2 separate regions of the Homo sapiens genome follow, and region 1 is reported to be linked to region 2. Evidence: microRNA targets listed by miRTarBase, many of them from high-throughput screens and not tested one by one. Region 2 holds a microRNA gene; the other region holds the end of a gene's coding sequence.
Evidence for each region. The annotated mature microRNA hsa-miR-6731-3p reads UCUAUUCCCCACUCUCCCCAG and lies in region 2 at 2,821-2,841, opposite strand. An mRNA with a match to its seed (bases 2 to 7 or 8) in the 3' UTR can be bound and repressed. Matches are read on the target gene's strand: a 7mer-m8 pairs with bases 2 to 8, a 7mer-A1 pairs with bases 2 to 7 and ends in A, and an 8mer does both.

Region 1: miRTarBase lists WSB2 as a target of hsa-miR-6731-3p. Seed matches in the 3' UTR shown: 7mer-A1 at 3,499-3,505.

Annotation. Positions count from the first base shown.
Region 1 is chr12:118,030,574-118,034,963 of GRCh38, forward strand. WSB2 (WD repeat and SOCS box containing 2) reads right to left here. Exons shown (of 9, transcript NM_018639.5): 9 at 2,114-3,785. The coding sequence ends at 3,623. RFC5 (replication factor C subunit 5) reads left to right here. Exons shown (of 11, transcript NM_007370.7): 11 at 609-1,661. The coding sequence ends at 705. Among named protein-coding and RNA genes, the nearest start is that of RFC5, 16 kb to the left of the region's middle.
Region 2 is chr1:24,916,525-24,920,914 of GRCh38, forward strand. It overlaps MIR6731 (microRNA 6731), which reads right to left and starts at 2,892; the gene lies at 2,821-2,892. RUNX3 (RUNX family transcription factor 3) reads right to left here. Exons shown (of 5, transcript NM_004350.3): 3 at 2,716-2,820.

The sequences.
Region 1 (4,390 bases), not on the chromosome of region 2:
ATAAATTTTGTATATCTGTATAGTTAGGACAAAGTTAAGTTCAGAACACCGCTGTTGACACCTAATAATTTATTTCTTTTTTTGAGACAGAGTCCCACTCTGTCGCCCAGGCTGGAGTGCAGTGATGCAGTCTCGGCTCACTGCAACCTCTGCCTCCCAGGTTCAAGCGATTCACCTGCCTCAGCCTCCTGAGGAGCTGGGATTACAGGCATGCACTACCATGCCCAGCTAATTTTTGTTTTTTGTTTGTTTGTTTTGTAGAGACGGGGGTTTCACCATGTTGGCCAGGCTGGCCTCCAGTGATTGGCCCGCCTCCCAAAGTGCTGGGATTACAGGTGTGAACCACCACGCCCGGCCTGATACCTAATAATTTTTAAAATTGAATCGGTCCTTACAAGTTTGAAACATCACATTTATAAATCAATGTGTAGGGCAGAGAAGAAAATGTTAGGGGGACACATACAAGATTGCCATCCAGGGCACATTTGTTCTATCAATTCCCATCCCCACTCCTTCAACAGATTTTCAGCCCTAGATCTCTTGGTCCCTTAAGAAAAGGCAGCTGTGTTTGGTGTCTTTTTTCTTACCCTGTGTTTGGTTTCTGTTAGGTACAGGCTTTCTGTTGGCACCAACGAGAAGATCCAGCTGAGCTCCCTCATTGCTGCATTTCAAGTCACCAGAGACCTGATTGTTGCAGAGGCCTAGATGCTCTGAGGGCCATTCACAATTCTCAGGGCTCAGCAGTGATGGGAGAACAGAGGACAGTTCCAGGATAAACTGCTGCCTGGGGCTGTGGGATGAATCAGTCACCCCGAATCTTGGAAAAACCCCCTTCCAGGAGAGGATGGGCAGGCATTTAAAAAGTACCATTTTTGTGGTTGTTTGGAGCAGGGATGTACAAAATAATTTTAATGTATTAACTCATACTGCCTGTCTTTTATAGGGGAAAAAAATAACCTTTTTTATTTTAAAGTTATAAGGTTTTTACCTTTTAGTTGCTTGGATGACAGGGAATTAGCCTACCCCATTTTGGTCTGGAACAGAAGACTTTCAAATTTAATATGGTCCAAGTGTCTTCCTACTCAAGGTAAACATTATCTCCAAAATTACATTTATGATTCTAATATTTGGCATTGTGTCTGTATCTAATTTAAACAGATGTTAATGGACGTCTGGCCGAAACTATTATACTTTTATAAGATGAGCTGAATCCTCTTACTTTAAAAACTGGTCTTTTTATTTACCCTCTGTGGTAGAAGAGTCACCAGCAGGTTCCAAATTGATGTGTATGATAGGAAAAAAACCTTAATTTTAAATATAATATAGAGCCTTAAACTATGCCACTGGGTGGCAGAGGCTGTATAAAACGCACTTGTTTTCATGCAGGAGCGGGGCAAGTAAGGTTGAGCCTGACTGTAAACCTAGAACTGCGGAAGGACTGGGACTTTTGTACAAATTTCACATTTATTTTACAGCAATCATGCTGCATTTGTGTTAGTGTTCTTTATAATAAAAAACAAAGCAGCCTCCTGGCTGGCTGTGTTACAAGTGACTCTTCCTTAGACAGCTAGAAAGATGCTGACTTTGTCAAACTTGCATTTATATGAAAACCTTCTGTCTCTAATATCACAGAATAAACTTTCTTTAGATGCTGTTCTTTATAAAATGTCAAATTCTTAAACTGTCAAATGGAAAAAGTCACTATTCCCTTTGTTCATGGAGGACTCACCCCCTTAAGGACAGCGGCAAAGTATGAAGCTAAATATCTGATGGCCAACCAGGCCTCAAACCACCCAGAGGCTCAGCATCTGCTGTACCTGGAACTTCAAGATAACCATGAAATGTAAACGTTGGCCAATCCATTCCCAGCTCTTCTGCTGTACTACTTGTTTTATGTGTTTATTTTTTGAGGCAAGATCATGCTCTGTCAGTCACCCAGGCTGGAATACCGTGACACGATCGTGGCTCGCTACAGCCTCCATGTCCCAGGCTCGAGCAGTTCTCCCACCTCAGCCTCCTGAGTAGCCGGAACCACAGAACCACAGGTAAATGCCACCACATCCTCAGCCCCCTGAGTAGCTGGGGCTACCATGCACACCAGCACCACACTAAGTTTTTTTGGCTATTTATTTATTTATTTTTTAAATAAAGATTGGGTCTTATCTCACTCTGTTGCCCAGGCTGATCTTGAACTCCTGGGCTCAAGCAGTCCTCCCACCTCAGCCTCCCAAAGTGCTGGGATTACAGGCATGTGCCGTCACACCCAGCCCTGCTTGTTTTAAAAGGGGACTTTTTTTTTTCTTAATGGAAAAAAATGAAACAGAGAGCCAAAAGCTTTTAACTGTTGTTTTTTTCTTTTCTTCAATGAAAGCCTCTCATTTTGAAAAGACATGTTTTTCTTCAAGCAACAAAGGTGGTAGAGGAAATTCCTCAACTTTCTCAACGAGTCATGTAACGTTACACTGGCCTCCATAAAGCACCGATTAAGAAAGCTAAAGAATAAGATGTTGTATTTCTTTTAAAATAATTTAAAATATATTAAATTTTCCTAAGGCAGGTTTTGTTTGAATGAGGTGTCTTGATTAGATAACTACATGCCACTGAAGGAGAACAGTACTTTTAAGGAGCTATTTTTGTTTCGCAGTAGAGTTGAAACCAGCTGATTAATCCAATGAAGTTAAACAGCAGAGACAGATCTCGTACATAAGAGTATCAGCTAAAGTCATGACTACACCAATTCTTTACACAATTAAGACATCTTTGCAACTGTTCAATTTAAGTACTATGGTTTTTAGATAATCGAGAAAAACACAGTTGTACCTTAACATCTGTTGAGAAAATACAAATAAATATGATGCTAATAAATGGCCACTGATAACTCAGTAGCCATCTGAATAGTCATGCGGTTTAAGAATACATCCTTGTATAATCTGACATACAAATTTGTCATTTCCTGCACATGCACACCATTGTTAAAAAAAAAAAAAAAAAGCCAGTAATAGTGTCTGGATCGGTCAGGAGCACGGCCTCTGAGTCCCCTGTAATTTAGTTAAGCTAAATTAATACCTCATACCAAATGGCTCCAGGAAAACTGTCCTGCAGGTCAGAAGGGAGCCCAAGAAGAAAAGCACTTGGCCAACATCGAAGCAACTCTGACCACAGCAGGAGAGAACTTGAACCAATGCTACCACTGCATCAGAAACACAAGGATAGGTACTAGGCAGAAGCCATCGTTCCCAGCGGAGGGAGTGTGAGCTGCTCTGCCACTAGAGAGGCTCTGGAGGCCTACTTAGTTGCATAATCAAAACAACATCAGTAACTGCACTTTGAATCAAAACAAGCAGAAAGAGTTCAACACTTGCTGTTCATAACTGGACTGAAAATTTAACGTAAGGCTCTGTTGCCGTGCAAGTGGAATCTCTTCCTCTAAGACTGACTTTCACATGCCAGGGAGAGAAAGATCCATGACTAGTACACTGGAATCTGGTTTTGCTACATTCTATTCACAATCCCAAAGAAATGCTATTTCAATGCAAGACCAGATGTTTGGCCCATTATTCCAGCAACTCCCTTTGACAGGACGATTTACCCTGCTACAAAGAAGCACAAGATGTGGTGTTGCTTAAAAAGTCCTGTATGTGAGGAACTCTTTCATTTTCTTGGGGATTGGCAGTGCTAGGACTTGGTAAGTTGTTAGGAAACTTCGAAGGGCTTTCCGGCATAAGTGCTTCAGTGAGGACAGGACCCTAGGAGCTGTCCAGAACTGGACGTGGCCATCTCTTGTCCTAAAATGAAACAGAAACCGATGCTAAGACAGAGCTTGGATGTTCATGTTTTCATGAGGATGAATACTCATGTTTCTGTTTTGACTGCAAAGAGCAGGAGACTTCGGAGAGTGAAATGTAACCCTGACTGTGGAAATGGATGTAAAATTGTGGTGCTGAATAATTAAAGCTGCTGATAGGATTAGAAAAACTCAAGACACCTGTGATACCAAAGCGCTCTCTCTGTCTCTCTCTCGGCACAGCCCTTTCTAAATCTGACCACAGTTAGTTCAAAAGTATAAGGGGGAAGAGTGCCACCTACTGAATTATAGATGTTACCTGTAAAGTGGTCTTTTAGCCCTAAATGGTTTCCCATATATTATGCATCATCTCAATTTTATTCTCCCTTGTGAACTTGGCCCATTAGGTGGCATGACTTACAGATCTTTAATTACATTTAGGTTAAATATTCAGAGAAAATGGGACACCGTTATTAGCAAAATCGATCATTTGAGTTTTATATAATCTTGAATTGCCTTAAAGCTTTCCTCATAGGCAAGAAAATTCTAGATGGTTTCTTTCCTTAAAAAGCTCCATGGTATACTCAGCAGAAAGCACCACCCATC
Region 2 (4,390 bases):
GGAGGGGGTTGCTCAGTGACCAGGAGCCGCTGAGCTGGTCCCTTCACTCTTACAGATGGGGACGCTGAGGACCCGAAAGGCCAAGGATTTGTCCAGGGCCAAAGACAAAGGAGTGGGGCTGCAACCCAGGGTATGGGGGGGGACCTGATCTCAGGGCCAGGATATGCCAGGGACAGGAACAGGCAGGTCCTAAGGATGGGGGACCTAGTAGACTGCCCCCCGACTCCATCTCTGCTCTGTTCTGTAAATAAAACCACTGATCCAGCCGCTGCCGGGGCCCAGAGAGGGAGGTCACCTGTCTCAGGTGGTGCAGCAAGCCTGGCTTCTGACGCCGTGGGTCTCCAGGCCCAGCCTCTGTCCCTCCCTCTTGTTGCCTCGTCCTGAGCCACGCATTTACCTTCCAGCTCACCCCAGAAGGGGCCATCTCAGGTCTGGGAGACCCAGGCAGGGAAGAGCAGGCAGGGGATTCTGCTGGAATCTCCCACAGGCAGGGCTGAGTCTCCATGCTCATCCAGGGGTCCCAGCAGGGCAGAGTGGGCGGCTCTGGGGTGGGCTGGGCTGAGCATGGAGGGCTCTCAGAGGGGCCAACCTTGCCCGGTCCCTTGGATCTTCCCACCAAGCGTCAAGACCCCGTCCCGTGCCTCCCTCTTTCTGGAGTGGCTCCCCTCTTTCTGGAGTGGCTTCTGAGTGCCGCATCCCCACCCAGAGCCCAACTGAGGCTCCTGTCCATGCTGACCCTGCCCCTGGAGACATAGGGCAGGGCTGCCACCTCCTTCAATGGAGACTTGATACCTGCACCTCTATTACCAAGGCAGCCACCCAGCTGCTGCCCATGAGAGAGCTCACCGTTGACTAATGGTGGTGGTGGGAGTGCAGGAAGGGGGCTGGGTACTGAGGACGACAAAACGCTGCGGACCCAGTGACTCATGGGACCCCTCTGTGCTACGGCCACGTGCTGTCCACATGTCGCCCCTGATCTCCAGGTCCGCAGGGTGGGTGGCATCATCACACTTCATGGAGGAGGGAGCTGAGGCCCAGAGAGGTCAGTGACTTGCCCTAGGTCACACTGCAGATAACAGCCCTGGCTAAAGTGACGGATCCCTTGCTAACCCCCACCGCTAAGTGCTTTCTATAGATTAAGCCACTGTTTCCTCGCAATAGCATCATGAGGTAGCTGCTTGTGCGAATATCATTTTTCAGTTCAGGAAACTGAGGCACGGAGATGACTAGCCCAAGGACCCACAGCCAGGAAGGCTGGCTTGGAAACTGCTCTCTACACCATGGTGGTCTATGGCTCATGAGGGCTTCCCAGCCATCACCACCTTGAGACTCCTGGAGTCACTGATCCAGTTCTCAGATGACAAAACTGAGGCCACAAAGAAGACATGACTTGCCTAGGGTCATGAAGCCCAAGGCCAAGGGCATGGGCTGGTCTATGTCTGATCTCAGCAGGAGGGAACCAGCAGGAGTGTGGCCAGGGCAAGTGCTGGCTGGGAGCTGACGGTGCAGGCCTGAGGATGCGTGCCGGGGCTCAGGGCTGGCAGAGGTGACCCTGAGAGCCCTGGAGGGAAACTCTTCCAGGGCTGCTGGACTCAGCTCCAAGCCTTTCCCAAGTGGCCAGATGCTGGGATGGGCCCAGGAATTGGATGATGGGGTGTCAGGCCCAGCTGACTCCCAAGAAGGGAGGGGCCAGCCCAGGGCTAGGCCTCCTGCCCCAGGCCTCCTGCCCCAGGCCTGCTCAGCCTAGAATCTTGCCTCTGGGAAGACTGAAGCCTGGGGCGCCTTCCTGCTCCTTGCACAGCATTAGGTCCTATTCAGGTACCCAACTCCCTCAGGCCTGGATTCTCTCCTCACTGGAACTTGGGTGACCCCTCTGGCTCTGCTGTCATCAAGATCCCATTCAATAGTGACTGCTAAAAGGTCTTCTAAACTACAAAGGGTCACATTTCTGAGAAAGAGAGGGGTGGGCCAACCTTCAGTGCACCAAGCTGAAAATGCCTTGGGGAGGTGGGATGGAGCTCAGGAAGCTGGCTGGCTCTATTTCATTCATTCATTCATTCATTCAGTCAGTCAGTCAGTCAGTCATTCATTCATTCTGTGGACACAGAGCCTCAGCCTACCCTCCCACTTCCCCAGCCTTAATCTGACCTTCAGCAAGCAGAGAGAATTAAACACAAACTCGCTTTGATGGACCAGAACTCCCTGCTCATAGGGTCTGGGTGCCCGGACTCTGGGTGACCTGAGCAAGTCACATGCTAAGATTCAAAGACTCAGTTTCCAAGGAAGAGGCCTGGCCTCACAGCCAGACCAGCCCCTGACTTTTGATCACTCCTGCCCTCCATGCATCCCTCAGCCACCCGCAGAGAAGCTGGGGGCAGAGTAAAGCAAGCCTGGCTCAACCTCCACCCAGAAACACACAAGCACCCGACAAATGCCATATCTGAAAGCTTTCTCCATCCTTTTCCTTTCCTTGACTCCCTCAGTAGTCTCCATGGACAGTCATCTCCACTCCCAGCCTCCTCGCTGGCCTCCCACGGTCTCAGGCTAAGCCCAGAGGGTTTAGGGGTTTGCCAGCAGGCACGCAGTGTGTGGGGGCACAGAGCCAAGGACTGCAACCCCCCGAGGAGGGCTCCATCTGTCTGACCTAGCTGCTGTCCTTCCCGCACTGGACCCTCCTCCCCCGCGCAGGGGCTCAGGGGGCTCGGTGGCACTTACGTCTGGGCTCCCGGGGTCCGTCCACGGTCACCTTGATGGCTCGGTGGTAGGTCGCCACTTGGGTGGGGTTGGTGAACACAGTGATGGTCAGGGTGAAACTCTTCCCTGGGGAGAGTGGGGAATAGAGGCAGGTGGTTGGCACCTGGAGCTTCCACAATACCCTGCTCTCCCACCTGTATCTACCCCTGGAAGCCCCTAACTGTCAAGAAGGGGCACTCTGTCCTCTTTGAACATGGGCAGAAGATAGGGCTCTGGGTGAAGTTCAAGCTCTTGGGCTTGGCATTCAAGGCCCCTGGGGGTCTGACGCCAACTTTGTCAACCCCCCGCCCCATGCCGTGACCACCCTGGCTCATGTTCCCCTCTTCTTGGCCTTTCTGCTGTCTCTTCTATTCAGAGACCCACACGATTTTGTGGTGGGGAGCAGGATGGGTATATTCTATTTTCTGAAAGTAATTGGTGATCTTTGTAGAAAAATTCAAGAACATACAAAATATAAATAAAGAAGAAAAGACACCCCCCCCCCACGGTTCCACTAGCTGGAGATAGACACCGTTACCATTTGGTGTTTTCCCTTTCAGCTCTTTTTGTATGGGTTTGTATATTTACACAGTCGCAGTGGTACTAAAATACAGATTTTCATACTGTTTTTTTTTTCATTTAACCTCACATCAGAAGCACTTTCCCACGTCATTAAAACTCCATAAACTTCGTTTTTAATGGCTGCAAAATATTTCAACTCAAGGAAGCCTCCTCATCTTTTATTTATCTACCTCCTTACTCTCGGGTATTTACATCGTTGCTAATTTCTTATTGATGTGTGCAGCTGGAGCTGAAAAAGGACTGATTTGGGAGCTGCAGACATTTCTTCTGTAGACACAACTGTTATTTCCAGAATGTTCTATTTTTAGATAGACATTTGGCTCCAAAGTCTCCATTCAAAATTCCTGAGAGGGGAAAAAACTTTTAAAATACTACTTTTTTTTTTTTTTACCATTTAAAATAAAATGAAAGTGACCTTCTGTTTATAAAAATCTTTGTCTGCATCTCTGCTTATTTCCTTAGAAGAGATTCCAAGAAGCGGTGAGTGATTTCACGGCAGCAGAGGGTTGGGACATATTACGGGCGCGGATCCCTCTTGGAGTGAGATGACTCTCCGGAGAGATTTAGTCGTCACCCTCGCGTGTGAGGCTGCGTCACACCCCAGGGATGTGTCTATCAAGATGGAAGATCTTTTACACGCTCTTGATTTTGTTTGCCTTTTTTTCTATTACTAGTGAGAATGAAACTTTTTATATGATTATTATCCATCATAATCCAACACAAATTACTGCTTCATGTTCTTTTACTTTCCTGTGAAGGTTTTAGTGCCTTTTAAAAATTGCTATATATTAAGCTTGTTAATACTTTCCATGCTGTATTTGTGGCCATCAGTTTCCCCGGGCACAGGCCTGCACATTTTGCCTTCACACGCTGGGTGGTTTTTCATTTTCACTTCTATTTCTCGTTCTTCTATCGTTTTATGTTCAGACGGGTTTCTCCGTGTAGAAAGCAGTTTATGAAGATTTACTTTCGACAGTCTTCTCTCTACTTTCTACAGTGAATTCTCTGATGTGTCTGGGAGTTTGGGGGTCTGGGTAAGAGTCCTCCTCTCACCCTATTCTCTATTACGATCCAC